Linked DNA regions of Homo sapiens. The protein of the gene in region 2 binds, or shares a complex with, the protein of the main gene of each other region. Each region holds a gene or a part of one and is shown on either strand. Other genes may lie near its edges. The genes, in order: CNOT2, CNOT10, CNOT11 and CNOT6L.

Region 1 (7,033 bases), on a different chromosome or scaffold from region 2:
GCACCCAGCTTCAGCATTAAGTTTGAAATTCTTTTTAGGTATATAGATTATGAAGCCATGGTTAAGATACGGTTTTAATCTAAATTAAATTCACTTTAATAATGTAAAAATAAATTTCTTGATGGAGAAATAGTTCCATTTAAAGATAGCCATCATCACTTAAAGATGTTTTCAGCATAGTCAAGATCCACTATAATACAAAAGTGATTAAAATACTTTGAACATACAGCTCCACTGCAGCTAAAAGTTGTAATACGTCTCCTCCATTCATGTAATAGAGATAGAAGAGAAGGTCTTCACCATATCGGCCAAGTTTTATTGCAGCCAGCTGAAAAAGAAAAATAACTTATTCTGAAATATAAAACAAATCTGCAAATCCTAATATATAGTTGCTACTACTAAAGAAAAAATGGAGAGATAAACAGAAACTCCCCACTTTGTAGTAGATAACTGTTATTACATGATTACACAGATAGGTAGTTAAGATTCTAAAAGGGAATTTCCTCATTTAAATGACTGAAGTCATTTAAACAATTATTTCTGATACATCTAATTGATATGCTGACTGGAAGAAAAGCTCAATAAAGACTTCCAAGCAAGATCCACTAAAAGGATTTAATACCCAATGGGGAAAAGAACCTAACAATAGCATTGTGCTCAGAGATCTAGGACTTGTATTCAAGTCCTGGTTTTATTACTCATTAATATGACTGTGTCCTAGTTATTTAAAATCTCTTAGCTTTACTTGTCAAATGTGGACAATGACACCTATGAGGGTTACTAAGAAAGTAAATAAAATGAGTGAAGGTATATGAAAGCACCTTGTAGAGTGCCAAATATATAGACGGCTTATAAAAAATGTTAAACTGAATCTATATCTGACAGTGAATGATTCACAAGTCAGTTGTATGCTTTCAGCAAATCACAGATGATGAATACAAAAATCATAAAGAAATGGCTTTTCAGTTTGTTTAAATAGATGTCTGAAAGATGATTGCTTTACATTTCTCTCCCCAAGGTAGAAACATAACTGCTTACCAAACTGTAAAACATAGGTTCAATAGTCTCAAATTTTCACATTTAAATAAACCTTAAAAGTGTCCCAAAACAACATTTTTATCTCGTTATTTGATCCTATATCGAAATACTTATTTGGTTATTACACATTCTCTGAATGTAATTTTTCTCTCCATTCATGTTATCCCTATTCAGGCAGCAGCCCCAATGTGACAAATTCTCCTAAATTAGTATTTCTCAAATTGGTAATAAGAAAAGGTTCTGGAACACTTTGGTAATTGGAGCGAAAGAGCTCTACAGTGGTGGTGGGAGCAAATCACACAATCCGCAAATAGAAAATAGGAGACCTCTCCATCTTGTATTTCTTGCCTTTTATCTACTCAAGTATTAGAAGACATTGAGAAAGGTATCCCTTTACTTGCCTGTCCACATCAACATCCACTTGACCACAGAACTGTAAGGCACACTCAGAATGCTGTTGTATATATACACATACACATAGATATTTATACACAAATATATAACAAAAATATATTTTTTCACTAAATTGTAGTTTCCCAAGGCTAAAATTTAGGTACCATTGTGAATATTTTTTGGTAATAGAAACAAACTCTCAGTTCTTCTAAAGCAAAAAGTGCCACCATTTTCTTTCTTAGATTGAAAAAAGAGAGATTAAGCTGTAATCTGTTGTTAATAACTACTTTAGAATTAGAATTTTAGGTGATTTAAAAAAATGGAAATGAAAAAATACAGAGAAAAGTCAAAGGTCATAAATAGTTTTTAAAGATACAGACCATCTCATTAAAAACACTGTATCTGTAATACTTGTAACGAAAATCTTTTTACTGGTAAGGTCATAAAATAAGATTATCAGAAGGATATTTATCAAATGTTCCAATCTAGTTTATTCTCATCAACTGCGGTTATGGTTGTAACCTGTTGTTAAATGTAAGAATTTTTATTTTTTACCAGTCCTAACATTTACCATTTAACAAGTTAACATGGACATATGAAAGCATATCCCTGAGACCATTACTAATTATTTCAAAAATAGTATGCTGCCTGAACTGAAAAACATGTGAAAAATAGATAAATTCATGCTGACTGAGTAGAATAATAAACTACACTCACCTTATCCCTAATGTGAATGTTCGTTAAGTACTCAGATGGAACATGGAAGTCTGGATAATAAAATGAAAAAAGCCTTATTAACTGATTCTCAATTGTAAATTTCTTTTTAAAAGGTCTAAACACAAATAGATTCTCCTACCTATGTCTTGAGGTCGACAAGGTGAAGATGCCCAGGGTGACGCAAATTTGGGGTAGAGATTTCTGAATAAGGAGGAAAAGAAAACATTTTGAAATCCAGAAAAAGAGATTTCTAATTTTATTTCAGGAAAAACAAAGACTCCAACTGTAAAATGACCATCTTTACTTCTAATTCCCTTACTTGGGTTTACTGACTTATACAGAAGCAAATGAAGACTGTGTGTGTTTGTGTGTGTGTCTGTAAAATATGATAGGACTCCTTCCCTCAGTATTCTTGCAATACAGTATAAATAACACAACATATCACAATATACAAAACATGATTAAAAATTTTCTACTTTTACTTGATTTCAACTCAAGATGCTTTAAATTCTTCAATACCATGCTCCCAATATAAATTAAATTTTAAATAAATTTTAAATAAATTTCCCATTTATTTGTGTGGCAAGAAGAAAACTGAGTAACTATTTGCAAAAGTTTAAATTCATCAAATATTTACTGAGTGCCTATTATATGCCTGGCACTGTTCTAGGAGCTTACGACACATCAGTGAGCAAAACAAGATCACTGACAACATGAAACTTACTTTCTGGTTGAGGATGGTGGATTGGAGGGGGACAGACAAAATCAATTAACAGAATAAATAAATAAACAATGGCCCATGTTAGAGGGGAACTGGGAGGGGAGACTGGATGCATAATTATTAAATAGGGTGGTCAGTTAGGTTTCATTAAGGTGGTCAGATCTGAAGATTTGAAGGCTATAAGGGACATAGTCATATTAATTATCTGGCAGAAGACTCTTCTAGTCTGAGGGAACTCCTAGAGCAACTAAGGCAGGGACATGACTGACATGCCTGAGATATAACAAGGTGGCCAGTGAAGCTGGAATACAGTGAACAAAGGGAAAAGCTGTTGAGGTGGGGTTAGGGGACAAACAATAATCATGTAAGACCTTGCAGGCCTGTGAAGATTTGGGGTTTCTGGTCAAGCGCGGTGGCTCACACCTATAATTCCAATACTCTGGAAGGCCAAGGTGGGCAGACCACTTGAAAAGTGAGGAGTTAAGAGACCAGCCTGGCCAACATGGTGAAATCCCGTCTCTACTAAAAATACAAAAATTAGCTGGGCATGGTGGCACATGCCTGCAATCCCAGCTACTCAGGAGAATCGCTTGGACCTGGGAGGTGGAGGTTGTAATGACCCGAGATTGCATCACTGCACTCCAGCCTGGGCGACAAGAGCAATACTCTGTCTCAAAAAAAAAAAAAAAAAAAAAAAGATTTGGGGTTTTTAATCATAATGAAACCACAAACATTTACTGGGTGTTGAGCAGAGGAGTAATGTATTAAAAAAGGATTGTCTTGGCTGTTATATGAAGAGATTGTACGGGAAGGGGTATAAGGACAATCAGGGACCCCCAGTGACTGGCTAATGGAGTATTCAGGCAAGAGAGAATGATTCAAACAAGGGTGGTAGCAGTTAAAAGTAGTGAGCTTTGGTTAGATTCTGTATATATTTTGGGAAAAGCCTGATTATGGGGTATAAAAGAAAGAGGAGTTAAGAATAATGCCAAGTTTCTGGAAGTACAGAGTTACCACTAACTGAGATTGGAAAGGCTGTAGACAGAATAAGTTGGGGGGTGATCATTCAAGAAATATTTAATTGGCAATTGAATGTAGAAATCTCAAACTCAGAAGTGTGGAATGGAAACATATGTTTGGGATTCCTCAATATATATGGTATTTAAAACAATAAGACTAGAAAAAGATCATCAAGGATGTAAATGCAGAGAAGAGGAATGACACTGAGGTCAAGAAGAAAAGGAGGAGGTACCAGCAAAGGAAACTGAAAAAGACCAACCAGTGAAGATGAGGTAAAAATGGTGCTCTCAAATTCAAGTACAAGAATGTGTATCAAGGAGCAAGAGTTCCTCCAAGTGACCACTGAATTTAATAACATGAAGGTCATTTGGTGACCTTGATAAAAGCAGCTTTAGTGAAGTGGCAGGGACAAAATCCTGACTGAAATGGGCTTACCAGAGAATGGGAGAAGACCAAGTCGGAGAAATGGAGATGACTCTTTGAAAAGTTTCGCTTCAAAGGGAAATAAAGAAATGGGAAAGTAACTTACGGAGGAGGTTGGATCAAAGGAAGATTTTCTTCTAAGATGAGAGAAGTAACAATGTATTTCTATGTTGATGAAAATGACCCAACAAAGTGTGAAAATGTGTTGTAAGTAGAACGCATGGGTCAATTATGGTAATAGGGTGGAAAACAAGAATAACATAGGTGTAGGTGGCTGTAGGTAGTCAGATTTGTTGGCTAGACTGTGCTAAATGTGCTCTTCTAATTGCTTCCATCTTTCTTAGTACAGTAAAAGTGAAAAGCAAGATCATCATTTGATAGTAAGAATAAGGAGAAAAGGTATTAGGGGCATGCAGAAGTGTACGATAGTTGCATAAGAGAGCAAAAGAGTAAATGGACTAAGCATGCAAGGTATAATTATCACTGGTAGAATTAAGAGCCTACTTTTGAGGCTCCTGGGCATGAAAATAAAGGAAGACCAGGCAGTGATATCATGTGTTTTTCTCTAGCAGAGCTCAGTAGCACAGGTCAGGAATGAAATAGGCAGAAACAATCAGTACTGTAGCTTTGGCCATGCAAGTATAACAACATGAGAAAATGGCAAGTAGTCATGGGATATGTAAATGAACAATTATGACTGACCACAGAATTTCATGGGTAAGAAGGGAGTTGATCACAGGGGAAAAGAGACGGGGATCTGGAAGAACAGTTAAAATACCGAAGAATCAATAGATTGAAGGTCCCAATGGAGTGAAATGATTACAGGAATCACAGTACTAGAAGAAGAGAAATAGAAAATAGAAAGTGGAAGTCGGAAAGCATGCGAGCTCAGATTTTAAAATTGAGAGACTGCAGTTACGAACAATGACTAGGTCAAAGGGATAACTAAAGGAGTGGCTGAAGTATACTACAGGACAAAAATTCCTGGAGGAAAGAAATTCAAGGAGCTGAGATTTCAGGATTCTGGAAGGTGTGTGTGTGTGTGTGTGTGTATATATATATATATACACACACACATATATACATGCACATGCACACACACACACACACACACACACACACACACACATAAAATGCCAAATTATAAAAGGAATACTGCAGAGTGACAGTGATCTAAGAGCTAACATGAATGGGAATGACCCAGAGAATCAGCAGGTTAACAATGAGTAGCAGTAGGTGAGATAATTTGATGACATGATATTAAAAACTGGAAGTCTGAAGAGGTATTATATACAGACATGGAAAAACAGAAAAAACTTACTCAGGAGAGTTCAGATTGAGGCCTAATGTTGTTAAGTCACTTCCTAATGCAAGATGTACCATTCCTGGGTCTGTCTCTGCTGCCCTGATAAATGTTAACAGGCCAATCATTCCAAATTGGTCCGTCACCATCCCTTGAGGAATGTTAGTAACCCGACCTGGGTAGGAAAAACACAGTTGCTTTTATTTTCAAGAAAAAGTTAAAAAATAGAAAAAAAAGCATTCTATAATATCTTTGACATAGATTTCTAGAGTCCCACCATCAGGTAACACCTGGATCCCTTTTTTCTGCTGGTTATTATTTTGTGTTGTTGAACTTTTATCTCCAGGGAATTTGGGTCCATCTGTACTTGAAGTTGTCTTGCCAGATGTATTCAAATTCTAGCATGAAAAAAATTAAATGTGACATTAAAATTTGTTAAGTATACAAATTCAAGTTCACATATTAATACCTTGCTATTTATTCTTTATTACATTTAAATTGGTAGTTAAATTATTACCTGTTTTTCAAGTTCTATAGAAAATTGTTTCCATCATTGTTCCATGGTATACAAATAAATCCTATATCATCCACATTTGAGTATTTAAAGAAAAAGAAATCAAGGGAAAATATCTTATTTATCTCAGATCTTCAGTCACAGAAAAAAAAAAATCTATCTCTTTCTCAGGTCTTTATGCTTTGGGATACACTTGAAGTTACACTCCTCAATGCTTTCATGTAAAAGAGAAACTAAATATAGTATATTACCTAAAATCACCAAAGCTACCTTGAAGATAAGTTAGACATACAAGCTTTAAAACTTTGTACTTATTTTAATTCTTACCGATCTTCTTTATCAATTATTTTAATAATATATAAACTCCCATCACACACAGAGAAAAGCTATTTTCAGTGAAATGTGGAAGAAATAAACATATTTGTTAAGTCAGAAAGAAGAAGCTGAGTTGGTTGAATCAACACAGGTATAAAAATGTGTATAAATTCTTCAAGGAGAAAACTTACTCAAGAAAAACACAGCTCCTTAGAAGGCTATATTATCAAACTTCATGGGATCCAGCTGACAGGGACTACAATAAAAGTCTAAATTAACTCTGAGAAGTTCAACAGAAATTTGCAAACCTATATGAAATAGGAAAAAAATAGGCTATCTTCTAAGTTATAAAGCTTTTCCACATTCTTCAGAAGTTAGGTTATTACAGATATCAAGATAAAACAGTTTTGTAATAGTATTTAGTAAGTAATTGTTAATATAAGAGAAATCTGAAGGGAAAAACTACATCACTCACATACACACTTCTCAGTTACTTACAGATTTACTGTCATCATTACTTGATGTTGGATCTTTATAGCTGGAGCCTGGTAATGCTGGAAAATCTTCATTGTGTATTGAGAAGTCCTGG
Region 2 (7,033 bases):
GCACGCACCTGTAGTCCCAGCTACTCGGGAGGCTGAAGCAGGAGAATCGCTTGAATCCGGGAGGCGGAGGTTGCAGTGAGCCAAGATTGTGCCACTGTACTCCAGCCTGGGCAACAGAGCGAGACTCCGTCTCAAAAAAAAAAAAAGATGTTTAAATTTCAAATCAGCAGAATAAAAAGCAACTTGGGGCCGGGCACAGTGGCTCACATCTGTAATCCCACACTCTGGGAGGCTGAGACAGGCAGATCACTTGAGTCCAGGGGTTTGAGACCAGCCTGGGCAACATAATGAGACCCTGTCTCTACTAAAAATACCAAAAATTAGCCAGGCATGGTGGTGCATTCCTGTAGTCCCAGATACTTAGGAGACAGAGGTAGGAGGATTACCTGAGCCTGGGAGGTTGAGGCTGTAGTCAGCCAAGATCATGCCACTGCACTCCAGCCTGGGCAACTGGAGTGAGACCCTGTCCCCCCAAAAAAAAAAGACAAAAGAAGTAAGTTGACAGTTTTAATTATTAAAATTCCAAAAGATGGAAAACTGTCTAAAAGATCACTTATATAAATAATAGTGCATCTGTACAGTTGAAGACAATGCAGCTATAAACTCTAGGTACTAAAATGGAAAGATGTCCAAGACATACTAAATGAAAACAGCAAGGTGTGAAACAGTTTCTGTATAACCCTGTATACATGCATAAAAGATCTCTGAAAGGACACACCAAGAAACTGCAAACATTAGTTGTTGGGGTGGCAGGACGAATACTACATGGCTGGAGCAGTAGAATGGGAGACTTTTCACTGTATACTGTTATGCTTTTAATTTTTTTTTTTTTTTTTTTGAGACGGAGTTTCGCTCTTGTTGCCCAGACTGGAGTGCAATGGCGCAATCTCGGCTCACTGCAACCTCCGCCTCCCGGGTTCAAACACTTCTCCTGCGTCAGCCTCCCAAGTAGCTGGGATTACAGGCATGTACCACCACGCCCGGCTAATTTTGTATTTTTAATAGAGACGGGGTTTCTCCATGTTGAGGCTGGTCTCGAACTCCTGGCCTCAGGTGATCCACCCGCCTCAGCCTCCCAAAGTGCTGGGATTACAGGTGTGAGCCACCGTGCCCAGGTGCTTTTAAATTTTGAATTGTGTAAATCTTTTTTCAAAATGTGAATTATAGGCCAGGCACGGTGGCTCATGCCTGTAATCCCAGCACTTTGGGAGGCCGAGGTGGGCGGATCATGAGGTCAGGAGATCAAGACCATCCTGGCTAACACGGTGAAACCCTGTCTCTACTAAAAATACAAAAAAATTAGCCAGGCGTGGTGGCATGTGCCTGTAGTCCCAGCTACTCGGGCGGCTGAGGCAGGAGAATGGCATGAACCCGGGAGGTGGAGCTTGCAGTGAGCCAAGATCGCGCCACTGCACTCCAGCCCGGGCAACAGAGCGGGACTCTGTCTCAAAAAAAAAAAAAAAAAGTGAATTATAAATCCACCTTTCAGAAAGCCAATACTAGAGAAACTCCATACACACTAAAGAAAGCTACTGGCAATATATAACTAAAATAAACCTCTGAATTCTACCACTGAAATGGTGCATCATGAAGCTTCAAGGAAGATTTTGATTGGATCTCTTTAGTAGGTCACCTGCCAATCCCTGGACCAATCATGGGCATTGAGCCATACCTGTAGTAGGGGACTGGGTACCACCATTGGCAGCCCCAGAGGAATCTCACAAAATTAGAAATAGTTCCTCAAAAGGACATTCATCCAGCAGATATCTGTTGAGCACTTACTTCTGAGCTAAGCCATGGGAATAAGACTGCACATAAGCAGACATACTACAATCTTGCCCTTGCTTGTAGACCTTTGCAGTTAGGAGACACCTTCCTAAAAAGGGAATTGCATGGTCAGAGGATATGCAGGATTTTAAGACTTCTGATATAGAAAGTTTGTATCAAATGGTACATTCTCCAGCAGCAGATGAGAAGGCCCACATCCCCACATGCTTGCCACAGCAACTAAAGTTGATATTAAACCTCTTCTCAGGAGATAGGGTGGCTTTCAGCCGGGCGCAGTGGCTCACACCTGTAATCCCAACACTTTGGGAGGCCGAGGCAGGCAGATCACCTGAGGTCAGGAGTTCGAGACCAGCCTTACCAACATGGAGAAATCCTATCTCTACTAAAAATGCAAAAAGTAGCTGGGCGTGGTAGCACATGCCTGTAACCCCAGATACTCGGGAGGCTGAGGCAGGATAATTGCTTGAACGCAGGAGGTGGAGGTTGTGGTGAGCCGAGATCGCGCCATTGCACTACAGCCTGGGCAACAAGAGCGAAACTCTGTCTCAAAAAAAAAAAAAAAAAAGCCTATGTGGCTTTCACATAGGTTCCTGCTTATGTGAGCAGCCTTGTTGTGCCTAGAAGTGATGATGCTTTACCATGTGAAAAATAACTACAAATTCTATTTAGTCAACTTAGTGGCATCTGGTCAGCATTTCTGATCCCAGATCAGAAAAGTTAAGTGACAGGCTGTCCAGGGTAACATGTTTGATATTATCTAGGCATTGAGTGTATGAGTTAAACCAGTAAGAGTTAAAATGTTTCACTCTTCTCAGTAACAAGGCTAGGGTGTTGAGCAGCCCCTCTCAAAGTGCCCCCAGACCTCAGTCACTGCAGCAAACAGAGCTTTTGATCTAAAGTTACAGTGTGTACAGTCCAGCTGAGGTTCTCGTACAGCAGGTGGCCATGGCTGCTGCCACGCTGGGAGAGACAGATGGGGTCAGGCCTGGTTTGGGGTCTGAAGGGGGTTTTGTTTTGGTCCCTTGGTTTTTAGGTTAATCCAATGGCTGGACCTTTGTTAATTGGGAGGCCCACCCTGCCTGGGAGGGAAGAACAGTGATGTGAAGAGTTGGAAAGGGCTCCGAGTAGATGTTTCCAAGGTTGCCTGCCCACCACTAACCATTCTGAACAGCCAGTAAGCAAAATGCCATTAAGTATCATAAAGATGTTGCCTTGAATTCTTGTATTTTAAAAAAAGCTTCAGACTGTGGTCATTGAAAAAAACAGTAAATAAAATGTGTTACTAGCCACTTGGATGGAAAACAGAGATTTTACTATCCACAAAATGGGCCGGGCACAGTGGCTCACATCTGTAATCCCAGCACTTTGGGAGGCCAAGGCGGGTGGATCATCTGAGGTGAGGAGTTCAAGACTAGCCTGGACAACATGATGAAACCCCGTCTATACTAAAAATACAAGAAATTAGCTGGGCGTGGTGGCAGGAGCCTGTAATCCCAGCTACTTGGGAGGCTGAGGCAGAAGAATCGCTTGAACCCAGGAGGCGGAGGTTGCAGTGAGCCTAGATCGTGCAATTGCACTCCAGCCTGGGCAACAAGAGCAAAACTCCGTCTCAAAAAAAAAAAATCCACAAAATGGTATAAAGACGATCTTGCCTATACAGCTTGCCTAGAAAGCTAGGCTTAGATATATAAAATCTCATTTTCTGAAAAGAGTTGTTATACCTCAGTGTTGTGGCGAGAGGAATAAAAGCCTCCCCACCTCATTCATGAGGAACTTCTTAGAAGCACATGCTCTGGGCAACATGCCCCGCTAGTCTGAGATTTCTCCTAATGCTGCCAGAAACCAACCTAGTACACGTTTCTGGTCTTCCCCAACATCTCCCACGTTCAAGCTGCTACCTTCAGTACCATTTCTCCCCATTTTCTACCTGTGAGATATCTACCCTGCAAGGACTAAAGCAGGCCTCCCTTACCCCAAAGCTCTGTTTGAAAGAAACTTCTTCCTTTCTCTCCATATTCACAGCACATTCACTGCCTTTCTCCCTGGCATTTACGTAACTGTGTTTGGATTATTGTTAGTTATTTGCATGCTTGTTTGTTATCAGGGGAAGTCCCTGTCTTATCTCCATACCCACCTCTGTTCAATAAGTATTTGTAGAAGTCTATTATCTGATTAGATTAAGAGAAGAGGCAGAGCTGTCTGGAAGCAATGAGCAACTAAAACTAGATGGGGAAGTACAAGTTGATAATAAGGTGAGGAATATTTTGGCTGTAGCTCAAAGAGGCCCAGACTGAGGAAATAAACCTGTAATTTCAGCACTTCTGTCCAGAGCAGTCCAGGCTTCCTTCTTCAGGACTGGATCAGAGAGAAACTGCTGGCCGATGCTATGGCTCTTACTCAGATCTAAGGGCAGCATGTTGCCTAAACTAGTAAATTATTTTATTGGACTAAATTGAAGTGTGTTTCAGTCCTTAAGAATGGAGACCTCAAACATGCTACGTGGTACGTTTTTTCTGTATTACTATAAGTTTGAATTATTATTCCTGACATTGACAACTTACAGTTTGTAATACTGAAGTGTTACTTAGGAAAACAAATGGGCATGCAGATTTTGATGTAATTGCAACTGTATGTGTCTGTTGTGAAAGCCACCAGCAGAATTGGATGGTTGACTGTAGTATCGGGGTGTCCAGTCACCCATCTCAAAACCCAGAGTATTACATGTCTAGCTTAATTGTTAGGTTTTAAGACAAAAGGAACTGAGGCTCATCAGAGCAGAACAACAGGTAGTCCCTAGGAAGTCACGTGGGAATGAGCTTGAATAAGTTTGTTACCTTGTTGGTTGGCAGATGTACTTGGAGTGTGTATCTTAAGCTTTTGTTTTTTCACGGGCATCTTTCTGTTTTGAGCAAAGGCGGCTTCAATGATCCATCCTAAAGAGGTGCCCCCTGAGGCCATCTTGCTGGCAGTCTACCTTGAACTGCAGAATGGTGAGTAATTCTCTCTGTTTAGGACTTTATCCCTTGAAAGAGCCTGAGATTTTTTGGTTGGGAGACAGGGTCTCACTGTGTTGCCCAGGCTGGAGTGCAGTGGTACCATCAGAGCTCACTGCAGCCTCCAAACTCCTAGGCTCAAGCAGCCTTCCCACCTCAGCCTTCCAGGTAGCTGGGACTACAGGTGCACGCCACTGAGCCCAACTAATTTTTTAAATTTTTTTTAGAGATGTGGTCTCGCTTTGTTGCCCAGGCTGCTCTCAAACTCATGGGCTCAAGCAGTCCTCCCATCTTACCCTCCCTAGTAGCTGGGATGACAAGCATAAGCCACCATGCTCAGCCAAGGCTGAGATTTTTTTTTTTTTTTTTTTTTTTTTTGAGACAGAGTCTTGCTCTGTAGCCCAGGCTGGAGTGCAGTGGCGCGATCTCGGCTCACTGCAAGTTCCGCCTCCCGGGTTCATGCCATTCTCCTGCCTCAGCCTCCTGAGTAGCTAGGACTACAGGCGCCCGCCACCACGCCCACCTAATTTTGTGTATTTTTAGTAGAGACAGGGTTTCACCGTGTTGGCCACGATGGTCTCGATCTCCTGACCTCATGATCTGCCCACCTCGGCCTCCCAAAGTGCTTGGATTACAGGCGTGAGCCACCGCACCCGGCAAGGCTGAGATTTTTAATGTCTGTTTTTTCTCTTCAGAGTCAGAAATTTGCCTTCCTTGAAGATAGGTGACCCATCAAATTCTTTTTTTTTTTTCTTTTTTGAGATGGAGTCTCGCTCTGTCACCCAGGCTGGAGTGCAGTGGCACTATCTCAGCTCACTGCAACCTCCGCCTCCCGGGTTCAAGGTTCAAGAGATTCTCCTGTCTCAGCCTCTCAAGTAGCTGGGATTACAGGCACCCACCAACATGCCTGGTTAATTTTTGTATTTTTAGTAGAGACCGGGTTCACCACGTTGGCCAAGCTGGTCTTGAACTTCTGACCTCAGGTGATCTGCCTGCCTCGGCCTCTTAAAGTGCTGGGATTATAGGCGTGAGCCAGAGCGACGACCCATCAAATTCTTCTACATAAAAATATAGTTAGGAGCTGGGCGCAGTGGCACATGCCTATAATCCCAGCACTTTGGGAGGCTGAGGTGGGCTGATCACCAGAGTTCAGGAGTTCAAGACCAGCCTGGGCAACATGGCAAAACCCCATCTCTACAAAAAATACAAAAATTAGCTGGGTGTGGTGGTGTGCGCCTGTAGTTCCAGCTACTGGGAAGGCTGAGATTGGAGGATCACTTGAGCCCTGGAGGTTGAGGCTGCAGTGAACTGAGATCATGCCAGAATAAGACCTTGTCTAAAAAAATAATAATAGGCCGGGCACAGTGGCTCACGCCTATAATCCCAGCACTTTGGGAGGCCGACACGGGTGGATCATTTGAGGTCAGGAGTTCGAAACCAGCCTAGCCAACATGGTAAAACCCCATCTTTACTGAAAATACAAAAATTAGCCAGGCGTGGTGGCGCATGCCTGTAATCCAGGTACTTAGGAGGCTGAAGCAGGAGAATCGCTTGAGCCTGGGAGGTGGGAGGTTGCAGTGAGCCGAGACACACCACTGCACTCCAATCTGGGCGACAGAGTGAAACCCTGTCTCAAATAATAATAATAATAAATACCTATATCTATCTAGATAGATAGATAGATAAATAGATAAATTGATAGATATAGTTAGGGAGTTTTTGGTATCCTACAAATACTCCTTACAAGTTAAGCTTATCTCCTTTTATCTGAGAAAATACAGAATCATAACTTCAGACACTTAATTATAATTAATCACTATTAATTAACCTTTCTCCTAGGCAGCTAAATGACTGAGAACATGAGTTAGAATGCAGTTGCTTTGAGTTATACACCATAGTATTTTGAACACATATTAACAAGTTTTACAGTAAGCCAGTTCTTGCTGAGAATTATTTATTCAAACATAAATTCAGGTCATGCCTCTAGGGCATATACGATCTCCAAGATGTATCTCACTAGAAGAAAGGCTGTTGGCTCTAAATATGAGATAGCATGAAGTAGAAAAGAGACATGAATGAGAGAGATTAGAAGGGACAGAAATAGGCCAGGTGCGGTGGCTCATGCATGTAATCCCAACACTTTGGGAGGCCGAGGCGGGCAGATCATGAGGTCAGGAGATCGAGACCATCCTGGCTAACATGGTGAAACCCTGTCTCTACTAAAAATACACAAAATTAGCTGGGCGTGTTGG
Region 3 (7,668 bases), on a different chromosome or scaffold from region 2:
TGACCCACCCGCCTCGGCCTCCCGAAGTGCTGGGATTACAGGCGTGAGCCACCACTCCCGGTCTGGATCTTTAGAAAAGGACGTGATGGGGAGGGTTAGTGAAGAAGTGGGGCAACGAGAATGTAGACTGCAGTGTGGAAAGGCAGGACCAGTAGATGCTTGGAGAGCAGTTGGGGGGAAAAAAAGAATGATCATTACAATTAATAGCAGTAGCTTTGCTTCAGTTATAACTTAAGGAAAAAGGCTAAGGGGCCTATATTTTTTGCTCCAGATCCAGTGATTTAATTTTGAGAAGCAAGATCCAGTGATTGAACTCATGCAAGGGGATGACCTGGGGCCTGTGAAAAGTCAGGTTGCAGTTTCCATTGTATTCAGGAAAACCAGAAAAATAAATACAACTTTTGGAAGAAACTTTAAGTTTTCTCCCATTCACATTTAACCCTAGGGGTCTCACACTTCTGGAATTGCTTAGTGTCACGTGTGTCCATATAAACCACCTAAACAGGCTTTGTGTGAGCAACAAGGCTGTTTATTCACTTGGGTGCAAGTGGGATGAGTCCAAAAAGAGAGTCAGCGAAGGGAGATAGGAAAGGGCAGCTTTATAGGGCTTGGGTAGGCAGTGGAAAGTTACAGTTAAAGGTGGTTATCTATCGTCAGCAGAGGAGGGGGTCACAAGGTGCATGGTGGGGAGATCATAAAACTCATTGTCCAGAAGAAGAATGTCACGAGGTCAATTGATTAGTTGGGGCAGGGCAGGAGCAAGTCATAATGGTAGAATGCCATAAGGTGGATTAATTAGTTAAGGCAGGAACTGGCTGTTTCACTTCTTTTGTGGTTTTTTGGCTGCTCCAGACTTCTTGGCTCCTGCAGGCCATCTGGACGTGCAGGTCACAGGGGTTACAACGGATGAGCTTTGGCTCAGAGGCCTGACATTCCTGTCTTTTTACTTATAAAATATAAAGTTATAAGAAAAGATAAAGAAAACATAAGTTTTTACTGGGGATTATTGGGGTAGGGGTTATGTTAATCAGGGCTGCTTCTGGCATGACTTAGGGGCGACGTGGACACCTAAAGAAAGTTTAATTTTATAGTGAGTTGGTCTAGAAAGTTTTTAGGTACAATTCTGTGTGGCTAACAAGGCACCAGTTAGCATATTTTGAGCTTGAAATTGTCCTAATAAATTCTCTAAAAACAGCAAATAAGCATAATAGCGTTAAGGTAGGTGTCAGTGAGTTTCTATGCCAAGGTAGGAATAATGTTTTAGGTACCAAAGCCTTTTGTCCCCATTTTCCATCATATGAACAGGATTCCCTGTTATTTAGGCAATGATCTATTATATTACCCTTTTCCTATAGGTGTGAGTGGTGGTCCAGATGGAGAAGTTCAATAGTTCTGATTGCAGATCCTATGCAGGAGAGATAATAATCTTTGTCTCCTGGGTTAAGCTAAGGCTGGCAAAGAGACAAATGTCCCAAGCCTTCTAACAACCAGTGGCATAGTTTATGTTGTCCTGGATGCTGGTCTGGTTGCCAAATATGGGGAAGGAAATGAGGGGCTATATAGGAGGCAAGCCAGAGGCTTATATCCTACGTGGTAATGGTCATGAAGGGAAAAGAAAAAAGAAGCAAAAAGCAGCCCAAGAAATCACTTATTTTCTAACAAAGAGCAGCCTGAAAGATCGAGCTGCAGACATAAATAAGGAAGCTGGAAGCTTGCACAGGGTGATGCCAGCAGCCACACAGACACAGCAACCTGGGGCCATGCGTGTCCACCATGGGGGCTCCACCTTCCCTTTTTTGTTAGCATGTACACAGTAGGAAAGAGATCAGTCACAAGAATAGCTACCTGCCTGCATAATAAAAGACTGGGGTGGGGGCTGCCAGAGATTCACACTCTATGCAGATGGCACACCTAGTCCTAACCGGTTTTCTTTTTGAGACAGAGTCTCTATCACCCAGGCTGGAGTGCAGCAGCACGATCTCGGCTCACTGCAACCTCTGCCTCCAGGGTTTAAATGATTCTCCTGTCTCAGCCTCCCAATTACCTGTGATTACAGGTGCCCACCACCACGCCTGGCTAATTTTTTTGTATTTTTAGTACAGACGGGTTTTCTCCATGTTGGTTAGGCTGGTCTTGAACTCCCGACCTCGATGATCCACCCGCCTCGGCTTCCCATGTTTTTTATTTTTTTTTTAAGATAAAATAAAATGTTCAAATATTTTTGAAACATCTTGGAAAAAACCCACACAGCATTAGTATTACTACATTAATAACTGGCAATTGGTATAATTACTACTATTAAATAGTATTAGAACTGCAGGAAAATTACAATAACAAATAGACCCATAGACCACCCAATGTAAAATGGCTTGCACAAAATACAGTTTATTATAATAACAAAAATTTTTTTTTGAGACAGTCTCACTCTGTCGCCCAGGCTGGAGTGCAGTGGTGAGATCTCGGCTCACTGCAACCTCCACCTCCCAGGTTCAAGCCATTCTTCTGCCTCATCCTCCCAAGTAGCTGGGATTACAGGCATGAGCCGCCATGCTCGGCCAATTTTTATATTTTTAGTAGATTCGGGGTTTCACCACGGCCAGGCTGGTCTCAAACTCCTGGCCTCAAGTGATCCACCTGCCTCGGTCTCCTAAAGTGCTGGGATTACAGGCATAAGCCACCTTGCCCAGGCCCTATAATAAAAAATTTATGAGAGTACTTTTGAGCTAATTTGAATCAGTTCCCCAAGTTACCACATTATATCTGCTGCTGTTAGGAACGTTAATTGGCAGGATCTTTCTGAAGTGCAATTTAGCAGTAAATTGAAGAAGCCTTTAAAATTCAGTAGATATCACACCTGTTGACCCAGCAATTTCTCTTCCTTAAATTTTTCATAAGAATTGAGGTAGCAAACCAAATATTACACTTCTAAGTGGGAGCTAAGTTATGAGGATGCAAAGACATAAGAATGATATAATGGACTTTGAGGACTCTGGGGTGGGAGGGGGTATACGTGGGACAGGGCTGAGGGATAAAAGACTATATTTTGGGTACTGTCACGCGCGTCCGTGTGGAGACCACCAAACAGGCTCTGTGTGAGCAATAAAGCTTTTTAATCACCTGGGTGCAGGCGGGCTGAGTCTGAAAAGAGTCAGGGAAGTGAGAGAGGGGTGGGGCCATCTTATAGGATTTGGGTGGGTAGTGGAAAATTACAGTCAAAGGGGGTTGTTCTCTGGCAGGCCGGGGCGGGGGTCATAAGGTGCTCAGCGGGGGAGCTTCTGAGCCAGGAGAAGGGATTTCACAAGGTAATGTCATCAGTTAAGGCAGGAACCAGCCATTTGCACTTCTTTTGTGATTCTTCAGTTACTTCAGGCCATGTGGATGTATATGTGCAGGCTTGGGCTCAGAGGCCTGACAGGTACAGCGTACACTGCTCTGGTGACGGGTGCACCAAAGTCTCAGAAATCACCACTAAAAACTTATCCATGTAACCAAAAACCACCTGTACCCCCAAAACTACTGAAATACAAGTTTTAAAAAGATGAAAAAAATTTTTTTTACATAAAATATCTTTCTCCCCAAAAACACATAAAATAAAATAAAAATATGTTTTAAAAAAGAATTGAGGTGGCTCTTAACTAGATAATTAGAATCGCTGGTGGTAATCACTGGCGAAATACGCGTACGTTTCTGTAGGTTTAGGGACCGGGCAAGTCTGGGAAATGCCACCTGGTGGTTCTCAGCCCAGACTACACCTCAGACTCACCTGAAGAGGTGGGGTTTATTAATATCTCAATCAGCATCTCTGGGGGTGGAACTAGGTATTTGTAACGTCTCCCCGTGGGTTTCTAATGCACAGCTAAGTGCCCAGGATAAGTGCCCTAGGGCAATCTAAGTAAAACGTGGCACAGCAAACAATTTTGTAAATGAATATTAACTGGAGACATGTTCTCGAAATCATGTTAAGAGAAAAAACCATGTACAAAAAAGCTCATAGTGCAGTATGATTCCATTTCTGCAATGAGTGTAAGACTAGAAATTAACCGTGGTTATGTGAAATGTGTGGTATATTTGCATTTACTAAATTAAAAAAAATGTTTCTGAGACAGAGCGCCCGGGCTGCAATGCAGTGGTGATCACAGCTCACTGCAGCCTGGGACTCCCGGGCTCAAGCGACCCTCCCGCCTAGGACTCTCAAAGTGCTGGGATTACAGGCACGCGCCACCACGCCCGGCCTGCATTTACAATACTTTTTACGACGAATACTTACGGATGTTATATTAAGAAAATAGTTAACATCTGAGGTGCATTCTTCCAAATAATAACGTAGACAGCACTTACTGGGACCGTCTGGCACCAGGAACCGTCCTGGGGACCGCCAAAGGGCGGCTTAACCTCGCAGCTGCGCAGACGCATGCAGTCCCCGGGCTCTCCTGCCGCGGGACCTCGGCAGACCTAACCCTGAACGCCACCAGCCCGACCTCGCCCCGCCCCTCCCCTCCCTTCCCGGGCCCCGCCCCCGCTTCCTGCCAATTCGCCCCGCCTACCCCGCGTCTCCGCATCCTCTTCCTGGCTTCGCTCCATCAGCCTCGCTTTCGCTGGGCGCTGTCCCTCTCCGCGGCGGTCTGGTTTCCCCGACGTGTTTTGTTTGCGACGCTGTCGTGTAACAGCGCGCTTTACGGCCGCGGGGACGGAGCGAGCCGGCGCCAGGGCCCCTCGGGCCGGGAAGAGGGGAAGGGGAGCGAGGTTGATGCCCGGCGGAGGGGCGAGCGCGGCGTCTGGCCGGCTTCTCACCGCCGCGGAGCAAAGAGGGTCCCGGGAAGCGGCAGGGTCGGCGTCCAGGAGCGGCTTCGGGGGCTCCGGCGGCGGCAGAGGCGGAGCAAGCGGCCCCGGGTCCGGGAGCGGAGGCCCGGGGGGCCCCGCGGGCAGGATGAGCTTGACCCCGAAGGAGCTCTCGAGCCTGCTGAGCATCATATCGGAGGAGGCGGGCGGCGGCAGCACCTTCGAGGGCCTGTCCACCGCCTTCCACCACTACTTCAGCAAGGCCGACCACTTCCGCCTGGGCTCGGTGCTCGTCATGCTGCTCCAGCAGCCCGACCTGCTGCCTAGCGCGGCGCAGCGCCTCACGGCGCTCTACCTGCTCTGGGAGATGTACCGCACCGAGCCGCTGGCCGCCAACCCCTTCGCCGCCAGCTTCGCGCACCTGCTCAACCCCGCGCCGCCCGCCCGCGGCGGCCAGGAACCCGACCGCCCTCCGCTCTCAGGTACCTCCTGAAGCCAGCTGTGCCGTGTGGATAGCGTTAGATTCCGCAGCTTTCCACCTGCGCTGCTGGGAACTCACCTGAAAGGGAAATTAACTATCCCTGTGAAATGATCATCCTCTTTTTCCGCCTCTCTCTGCGTTCCCACGCCCCTCACTCCTCCCCGCCTTAACTCTAAAGAATGGAGAGGTGGTAGCTTAATTGCAAGTTCGTGACACCGAAAATGATTTCTCTATACACCCCATCACATCATACAGCTCAGTGTAGGTCTTGACATGTTTAGTGTCTCAAATACGGTTCGTTCTTCGAAAACCCGTCTGTGGTGTGTGAAGTTAAAACCAATGATAAGACTGGATCTGTCCCCGGTTTTTAGTCTCAAAGGAGTACGTGGAAGTCAGTATTAAGAAGCTGAAGAAGTTGGTGGGCGGAAATACACATGAAACACCTTAAAGACTTTGCAGCCGCCTTTCTTAGCCTGTTAGGGATGGGGGCAGAGGATAGAAAGTCTCAAATTGATGATCTCGCGTTTGGAAACACATGACTTACTGGACATTATGTAAAGTGCATACGTGGTATACATTATGTAAAATGTATTTACTATTGTGTGGCATTGGTGAGATCAAACTAGTAGGTTAGATGCGAGGCTGCATTTTTTTTTGTTTTTAAGCTCAAGCAGGTGATGCTTTATGTGGATTTGCTTTGCGAGAAGACTTGCAGTCAGAAAACAAGAAAAATGGCATGTTGACAACGGGACCTGAAGGATTTAGGAACCAGTGTAGTGGAGGAAGCACACAGAGATAGGAAACAGCTTGATCTTACATTCCTTAACCAGTATAGGTAGGGCCTGCTATACAGTGAGTCAAGGCTAGGCAGTAGATTTTGAAGTAACACCAGGAGTTTGTTTTTATGGTACAGGAGGGCCGCGTTTCTAGTTAGTGTTCCTGCCGGGCATCCCATCAGGATCTTCTGATAGGTGTCCTGTAGTGCCCTTATCTAAGAAGGGCAACCCTTTGTATTGGCCTGAGATGCCTTTAGGGTACAGGTACTTAACCTGCTTCTAAGAAGCTTGTGACTGCCCAGAAAGTGAATGTAACACAGGTTTGTGGTCAAAACTCACCACCTAGGCCTGGCTAGGTGGCTCACGCCTATAATCCCAGCACTTTTGGAGGCCGAAGTGGTGGAGGTTGGGGGGTGGGAATTGCTTGAGGCCAGGAGTTTGAAACCATCCTGGGCAACATAGTAAGATCCTGTCTTTACAAAGCAATAAAAAATTTGCTGGGCATGGGGTGGCTAACACCTGTAGCCCCAGCTGCTCAGGAGTTTGAGGCAGGAGGATCACTTGAGCCTAGGAGTTTGAGGCTGCAGTGAGTTAGGGTGACAGCTTCTAAACACACACACACACACAGACAACCACCACCCTAGGGTGCTTGTATTAGAGGATTGGGACACTGGGATTTAGATCAGAGGGCCCTTTGAATTCTGAAGAACAAGTGAGGCAAAGAAACCGTGACTTATATAATGTCATTCTCATGTACAGTGAATCTAAACCCACACCTAGTCCGTAGACCGCATTATACACACAGATTTGCCATAGGTGGGATGGCAGTCACCAGAGAAGGAATCCATGGATGGATTATATTTAACCATTTTGTGCCTCAGATTCCTCATCTGTAAAATGCAAATAGTAACAATTCCCAGCTGGTAGAGTTGTTACAAAGAATAAAAGTACCTGTGAGTGGGCTGGGCGCGGTGGCTCACGCCTGTAATCCCAGCACTTTGGGAGGCCGAGGCGGGCGGATCACAAGGTCAGGAGATCGAGACCATCTTGGCTAACACGGTGAAACCCCGTCTCTACTAAAAATACAAAAAATTAGCCGGGCGCGGTGGCGGGCGCCTGTAGTCCCAGCTACTTGGGAGGCTGAGGCAGGAGAATGGCGTGAACCTGGGAGGCGGAGCTTGCAGTGAGCCAAGATTGTGCCACTGCAATCCGGCCTGGGCTAAAGAGCGGGACTCCGTCTCAAAAAAAAAAAAAGTACCTGTGAGTGTTACCCACTATTATACCATTATTAAAGTAGGTAGGGATGGTGTGTAGATAACATAGAAGAGAAAATATCAGTGCCTACACTCCACTCCCAGAGCTGCTGATATTGTATGTTTAGGGTAAGACATTTAGTGGGTATGTCTTCAGAATGCTTTTCAGATGACTCTGAACAGAGGCAGGGCTGCGATTGTGTAATGCTGGGTAGTTAAGAGGAAGGAACGACCACCTGTGGAGCTGGAGAAATTCTCAGGAGTGATATTTTTTGCTGGATATTGATTAGGGATGCAGGAGGGAGGGCAGGAGTAGCTCTGCCAGGTATTATTAAAAAACTGGGTGTAAGGCCGGGTGTGGTAGCTCATGCCTGCAATC
Region 4 (6,847 bases), on a different chromosome or scaffold from region 2:
ATTTCTATTTCTTTGTTTCTAAGGTATTAAAAAGTATCATTTATAGTTTTAAGGTAAGAATTATTCCTTTAAATATAACCACATGGCAGAAGATTCTGTTCAATGTAAATACACACTCCCACAACACACACTTTAAGAAAATCACAATTTGCATTCTAATAGTTGCCCCTAGTTATTTATAAAAATTCAAGCCCCTCAATGATGAGAGCTTCCCCCTCCCCATCCTGTGACTCTTACCTTCACAGAAATTTTTATATAAAAATATGCATAAAAGCTATACTGAATGTGTTGAAATTTTAGTTTGAATTTTAGAAAATAATATTTTTTAAAGCTTATCATTATTGATACAAATAAATTACGTAAGCCCTACTGGGAAACCCGGCATTTGTAAATAGGGCCATGACAAACTTAAACCAATCAAACTCCCACATTCTCTGTCCTGTCTTTTCCCAAAACAAAAAGAAAACAATCTTTATGTTAACTTTTCTGTTATCTTTACCTTAAATTCCATACCTCTCCATGACATTATTTTTTCCACACAGCAGTTAAAATTTAATGAACACATTTCCTACTCCAGAGAAAATACTAAAAATGGAAAGTTATTGAAAATTAAGTGGACAGAGGATTTTACCTTATATTCAGAGAAATATTCTAAGAAGTTTTATTTACCAAATCAGTCAACATGAGCTAGCATTTTTCGTAGCATTTAAACTTTGGGGATCTATCTAAATTTTGGTTCCTTGATCCTTTTTAATGTTTAACTGTATTGAAACATACATGTGCTATATAGAGGTTGAAAATTTTTTTCCAGGGCTACAAAACGAAAATCATAAAGAATAATGAAACTGAGAGATGGTCTATTTGAAAATATGAAAAAAAAATTAAGTATGACTATTTTTATAAATAACTAGGCTATTTTAATGACTATTTTTATTATTAGAAAAAAACTTCTTATATACATTAAAGTTTATATATATACCTTTTGTATACTGAAGGGCTCTGAAAGATTCCATTGTCTTTTTTACGTTATAGTTACTTAATATTGCTCTAAATAATTAATCATATTTGTGTTTGCAAAGGTTCTTCAATGCCCATAGTCAGGGCTGCAGGAGGCAGAACTAAAATTTAACTAAGCATCTACTACATGCCAAACATATGTTTTCTCATTCTATTCTCAAAACGACCTTACTATAAAGGTATTAGCTCTCTGTGACTGATAAAACTGTGGCTTATAGATATGTTACCTAAGGTCAAACAGCTAAGGAAAAATCACACAGCTGGGAGGCTAACTGAAGTCTGTAAAACAAGTCCTTTTCCCACTAACTACGTATGTTAAATTGTTTTTCCAGTAGTGGTAATAGAGAACAGCTCTTCGCCCCTCCTTCTCTTCCCTCCACTTCCCCGTGAACAGCATACACTATTTCTTTGTGAGACCAGGTGCAAAGAGCAATCTCTGGCCATGACACAGAGTACGGCCTACAAGGATCGAAACTGTATTATGCTTTTATCCACAGCACGGTTCTAGCTAAATGATCTAACTACATACAAATGTAATGAGGTTGGAGTAGAAAAGCACATTAGCAAATAATTATCCAAATGCCATTTGTATTTGGTTCTGAAATGTACTGTAGACCTATTGGCAGCAGGTTTATCTTTACAACTGGGTTTTGCTTAGGCTATTCTCAAAATAGCTTTCCAGCAGCACATACTGAGTAGACAACAGAGGTTGCTTGATCTAGTTTTTGGAGACTGAGGAAAACATGTTTGTTGAGCCTATCTTGATTGACAAGATAACTAGAGGCAATACGGTAAAATGTAACACTGTGCTTCCAATGTGTACAAACGGCTCAGCTAAACTCCCTGAACACAATCCACCTAAACAGTCTAAGCTCAATAGCCGACCGAGTTAAGCAGGATGACAGCTCCAGTAACTTCCTCTTCCTCACCCAGCTCCTCAGCTCGGCGGCGCGTACACGCCTCTCCCCCTAGGAGGCAGGATAAAACAATTTCAAATGCACAAAATCCATCCAATCCCACAGGCCAGGAAAGCCAGTTTCCCTTTCTTCCTCAGCCCTTCCAAGAAAATGTTTGTCTAATTAAAAAAAAAAAAATCTTACCAACGGCAAAGTATTTGCAACAAAAATCCAAAATATTTACTCAGTCCCTCCACACAGCCTTAGGGGAAGGATGAAAAGAAGGGAACACGACACCGCGTATTCCCAAGACTGACTGTTCTGATTCACTTTCCTCCCTCGGGTCCCACAGCCGGCCGGGCGAAGGCTTGCAGTTGGAACGCCAAAATAAGCCTTCGCCTCTCAGGAGACGCGGAGGCGGCCACGGCGACGGCAATCGGCGAGTCCCGCCTCCGACCCTCACCTGCCCAGGCCCGAGGCAGCGCCGTGGGCTCGCGCGGGCTCGCCGTCCCGGGAGGCGTCCGGGGAGGTGGGCGGGCGCCCAGGCAGTTAGGCCGCGCTGCAGGCCGGCGCGCTTCCTGCCGCGGCCGGGGAACGGCGGCCCCGGGATCAGCGGCGCGGCACCGACCAGCAGCTCTCCCAGCCCCGCTGCCGCGCGTGTGCCGCACTCACTCAGCCCTCCCCGGCCGGCCCCCTAGGAGCAGCTCTCACCTGCGAGGCTCGGGAGCCGCAGCCACAAAGCGGGAGGGACACGCCACTCTGGGGTCCCGGCCCCGGGCCACCCCCGACACACACACACACACACACACACACCCCGGAACCTTCGCCCGCCTCTGAAGAGACGCGGGTCAGCCCCGCCGCCCCCTCCAGTCACCCGACACACACCCACTCGCCGTGGGTCCTCGGGCCGCCTCCCCGCCCGCCAAAGTCCCAACTCGCACACCCACACGCACATTTGTCCCTCTCCCACCTCATTTCCCCGGGGACGCGCTCCTCTTCCCAACACTCTCGGTCCTACTCGGAGGCAAAAGAACACTCTACCTCATTCTCTTCCTCTGGCCCAGAAGCAACAGCAGCCATTTCCCCGCGGCAGGGGAAACACACACACAAACACGCGCGCGCGCGCGCACCAGGCCCCCACAGATGCTTCCCCTCCAGAGCCGCGGCCGCAGACGCAGACGCAAACACAAACACCCACGGCGGGCCTCGCTCCCGCCCGCCCCGAGGGGAAGCCGCGGCGGCACACAGGGCCCGTAACCGGGGCTCGCGGGCGGGCGCGCAGGGAACCCGGGCCCGGGGTCTCGGGGGGCCCGCGCCCCCTCCTCACCTGCATTCAGCGCGCCGGGGTCCGGGCGGCGGCGGCGGCGGCGGCGACGGGGCGGCTGGTGCTGGTGCTGCGGCGGCGGGGGAGGCGGCGGCGGCGGTGGCGGCGGGGCTGAGGGCAGCAAAGACATGCAGGCAGCCCGCCGGAGGGGAGAGGCACCGGCCGGAGGGGATGCGGGGCGGGCGGGCCGGGCCGGGCCGCCTGACGAACGGCAGAGGCGGCGGCGCGGAAGGCGGCTGAAGGGAGCGAGGAGACAGACCGGGGGTCGGGAAGGGGGACGAGGGCCGCGCCGCCGGGCTTCGAGGACAGTGACCCCAGGCGCGCAAGAGAGGCCCCGCGGCCGCGGCCGCCGGCGCGAAGGCCCCAGCCGAAGGAAGCTGCGCCCCCGCAGGGCCGGAGCCGCGGCTACTGCTCCGAGAGCCACGCAGAGCCTGGCCTTGGCCTTGGCCTCCTGGTGCTGGGGCTGCCGCCGCTGCGGGGGTTGCCGCTGCGCCGGGTGCTGCTGGGGCCGAGGTTGAACAGAGACGCCAGCTTTCGGTGCCTTCGCTCCCGCTCACACACGTTCACACCCCCGAGGGCCGGGGGAGAGGCGTCCGGGCGATATCGGTATTGAGATTAATAACAAGGTGCAGAGAGTGCGAGAACGAGGAGGGTTGATTGACGTGGAGGGGCTGGCGGGAGTCAGTCACTCCCCGGCGCGGAGGGTTGGGGTGAGGGGAAGGAGGCGGGGCGGTGACGGGGCGGAGCTCCTACGCAGCGCCTTGGCCCCGCCCCCCGTGCGCCGCGTTTTGTCGCGGTGAGCGCGCGGAGGCCCGGGCTTCTTAATGGTTTTCTGTTTTGCTCTGGCTGTTTTCTCACTCTTTTTTCCTGGCCTGAGCGAGGAGCGGGGCTGAGAAGAGTGGTAGAGTTTCAGAAACCCACATCCACAGAGCCTTGGCGAAGAGACGGGAAACCGCCTCACCCCGGGTTCTTGTGTGGGCGCTGTTTACTGCACCCTCCTCGCCCGAGGCGACCTGACAGCGAAGCAGAGCGTAGGTCTAGGTGGCTGAGACGCCAGGGGAGGTGAAGTGACCGAAGGAAATGTTTCCTGACATATTCGGTGGATTTTTTTTAAAAACATATAGCATCTGTAAGTTGTATCGTCAAAGGTAAATAAAAGAACCTGTGACGCTCAGCGATAACCCGGTCCTATTTTCTAATTCTCCCTTCTCGTTGTAGACTTTAGTTTGTTGTTTGTAGCTTATCCATGCCATCTACAGAATGAAAACATCCAAATGCAAACTAGAAATAGTAGTGTTTACTTGGTGAACCTGGCTGTGATACTTTAAGTTTCTGGGGTTTGTTTTTGTTTTTGTGGGCCAGCTTCAGCTTTTTTGGGCCAGCAGTCCAAAAAGCAAATTACACCGGCTGTGGAGGCAGAGTACTGCTGTTGCAGTTTTGCACAATTTTAATCTCTTTCTCAATGCATGCCCGGGCTCGTGTATTTACCAGTGTTGGTCAAGGGTATATTAGCAATGTTCAGTATTTTTTCCCCCACAGGAGTGTTTAGCACACTAAGCACGTTGCGTTGGTTGCAATTCATCTTAGGCCTTATTACTGAATGTAAAATGCCTTCATCTCTTGGGGGAAAAGGTGCGGTGAAAATGCAAATCATCATTTAGCTAAAACTGAACAGCTGTTACAAGAGTCCATAATTGCAGAACTATTGCACCACTTTCATCTTGGCACCAGGATGGGTGAATGAGTGAGTAAAAAAGCCCCTCAGTTCACAAGACGACAGACTATTTTCTTTTCTACCTATGTTAATTTTCCATTTCCCTCCCTAGCAACACCAGCCCCACACCATCTTCTGTGAAACATGTCAAAATGGCCTTAAGCCTGGAAGAAGTCTCACTCTTTCCCAACTATCTAAGAGTCTAGGCTGACATAAAATGAATAATTATCTTTGGCTTTGTAAGCAGCAAAGCCAAGCAAGTCACTTCAGGAGTCCAAATAGTGGACCTGCCTCAATGGCATCTTGCCACAGTATTTCTCCGTAGCACACAAACACTCTCCCAGGGAGAAATACCACCAATTATAGAAGGAAAGAGGAAAATAAATACCTGAAAAAATGTAAATCAGATAATGTGATAGCCTCACAGATTTAAGCATCTTTAAATAACAATAAATTTATATGAATTTTCTGTGAGTATTCAATGAATTTTCATTCATATACAATAAACACATATGGAGGGCATATTATGTTCCAGATGCTATGTTTAGCATTGGAGACACACAGCCAAGCATATATAGTCCCTTTTCTTAAGTAACTCACTATCATTGTAGGGGAAGCTGACACATAAACAGGAAATTCTCACAGAACAAACCAGAAATGAAAGTATGAGAGGTGACACAAAATTAATAGTCACAACAATGTCTAGGAGGATGGGCTGACAGCACTGGCATTTACACGTGAGCCATTTGACATCTGCCCACTCTCACAGGCTGCCTAGCAGTAGTGACAGGTGGGGAAAAATGACAGGGCCATTGTGGATGTTAAAGAAGCACTAATAAATGGTGGACTTTGGTGGTCCTGAAGGTCAACTTTATATATGGGATGTTCTTTGTTGGCCTCTAAATTTTAAGTAGTAAATGCATCACAATCCATGGTGGGGAGGGGTAATTGTAACTTTCAGAGTTAATAGTGGACAGTGGATGTTGTCATAGGATCATTTATTTTAATGCAGGTTAAGTTTAGAATTTACTCTCAAAGATGTCCTCTTTATACCATATCAAATTGATTGACTCACTAAAAACAAAAGGAAAGCAATACTTTTATATGTTAACTATATTATCCAAAAAATAGATTGCTGTTTTTCTCATTTGCAATTAGAATGACATTGGAGAAATAATAGTTTTCAGATAGTTGGCACTATACAAATGCCAAGAAATTGTCTTCAGTGAGATTAAAAAACAAACAGGCCAGGCGCAGTGGCTCAGGCCTGTAATCCCAGCACTTTGAGAGGCCCAGGCGGGTGGTGGATCACCTGAGGTCGGGAGTTTGAGACCAGCCTGACCAACATGGTGAAACCCCATCTCTGCTAAAAATACAAAATCAGTTGGGTGTGGTGGCACACGCCTGTAATCCTAGCTACTCAGGAGCCTGAGGCAGGAGAATCACTTGAACCTGGGAGGCAGAGTTTGCAGTGAGCCGAGATCTAGCCATTGCACTCCAGCCTGGGCAACAAGAGGGAAACTCTGTCTCAAAAAAAAAAAATAGTTCCTCATAAGATTCCGCTTCAAAAGACACCCCAGAAACGACAACAAATGAGTAGCACTTTAGCCATTGTTAAGAAGCAGTTTACGGGAGGCTGAGGCAGGAGAATTGCATGAACCCGGGAGGCAGAGCTTGCAGTGTGCCAAGATTGTGCCACTGCACTCCAGCCTGGGTGACAGAGTGAGACTCTGTCTCAAAAAAAAAAAAAAAAAAAAAAGAAATTTTATAGTGGATCAAAGTTTGCTACAGAGAGTAACCTGCTTTCGATATCTCATTTCTGAGGATTTTTCACGTTTGTCAGTTATTGCAGTTTTTAAGATTAGAAATAATGCAATAGGAAAATAGGTGGGTGTG

The links.
Region 1: CNOT10 (region 2) and CNOT2 share a complex: the UniProt entries of both Homo sapiens proteins name them as parts of the CCR4-NOT complex.
Region 3: CNOT10 (region 2) and CNOT11 share a complex: the UniProt entries of both Homo sapiens proteins name them as parts of the CCR4-NOT complex.
Region 4: CNOT10 (region 2) and CNOT6L share a complex: the UniProt entries of both Homo sapiens proteins name them as parts of the CCR4-NOT complex.

Annotation. Positions count from the first base shown.
Region 1 is NC_000012.12:70,337,423-70,344,455, reverse strand, and holds part of CNOT2 (CCR4-NOT transcription complex subunit 2), read right to left. Parts: coding exon 6,943-7,033; intron 6,701-6,942; coding exon of another isoform or gene 6,671-6,700; exon of another isoform or gene 6,037-6,670; intron 6,014-6,036; coding exon 5,893-6,013; intron 5,791-5,892; coding exon 5,634-5,790; intron 2,350-5,633; coding exon 2,288-2,349; intron 2,199-2,287; coding exon 2,149-2,198; intron 346-2,148; coding exon of another isoform or gene 329-345; coding exon 228-328; intron 1-227. UniProt on the Homo sapiens protein: Component of the CCR4-NOT complex which is one of the major cellular mRNA deadenylases and is linked to various cellular processes including bulk mRNA degradation, miRNA-mediated repression, translational repression during translational initiation and general transcription regulation.
Region 2 is NC_000003.12:32,765,185-32,772,217, forward strand, and holds part of CNOT10 (CCR4-NOT transcription complex subunit 10), read left to right. Parts: intron 1-2,821; exon of another isoform or gene 2,822-2,962; intron 2,963-4,702; coding exon 4,703-4,778; intron 4,779-7,033. UniProt on the Homo sapiens protein: Component of the CCR4-NOT complex which is one of the major cellular mRNA deadenylases and is linked to various cellular processes including bulk mRNA degradation, miRNA-mediated repression, translational repression during translational initiation and general transcription regulation.
Region 3 is NC_000002.12:101,248,218-101,255,885, forward strand, and holds the start of CNOT11 (CCR4-NOT transcription complex subunit 11), read left to right. Parts: upstream 1-4,668; 5' UTR 4,669-4,747; coding exon 4,748-5,261; intron 5,262-7,668. UniProt on the Homo sapiens protein: Component of the CCR4-NOT complex which is one of the major cellular mRNA deadenylases and is linked to various cellular processes including bulk mRNA degradation, miRNA-mediated repression, translational repression during translational initiation and general transcription regulation.
Region 4 is NC_000004.12:77,816,350-77,823,196, forward strand, and holds the start of CNOT6L (CCR4-NOT transcription complex subunit 6-like), read right to left. Parts: upstream 3,020-6,847; 5' UTR 2,994-3,019; coding exon of another isoform or gene 2,960-2,993; coding exon 2,955-2,959; exon of another isoform or gene 2,889-2,954; coding exon of another isoform or gene 2,884-2,888; intron 2,675-2,883; exon of another isoform or gene 2,625-2,674; intron 1,986-2,624; coding exon of another isoform or gene 1,903-1,985; exon of another isoform or gene 1-1,902. UniProt on the Homo sapiens protein: Has 3'-5' poly(A) exoribonuclease activity for synthetic poly(A) RNA substrate.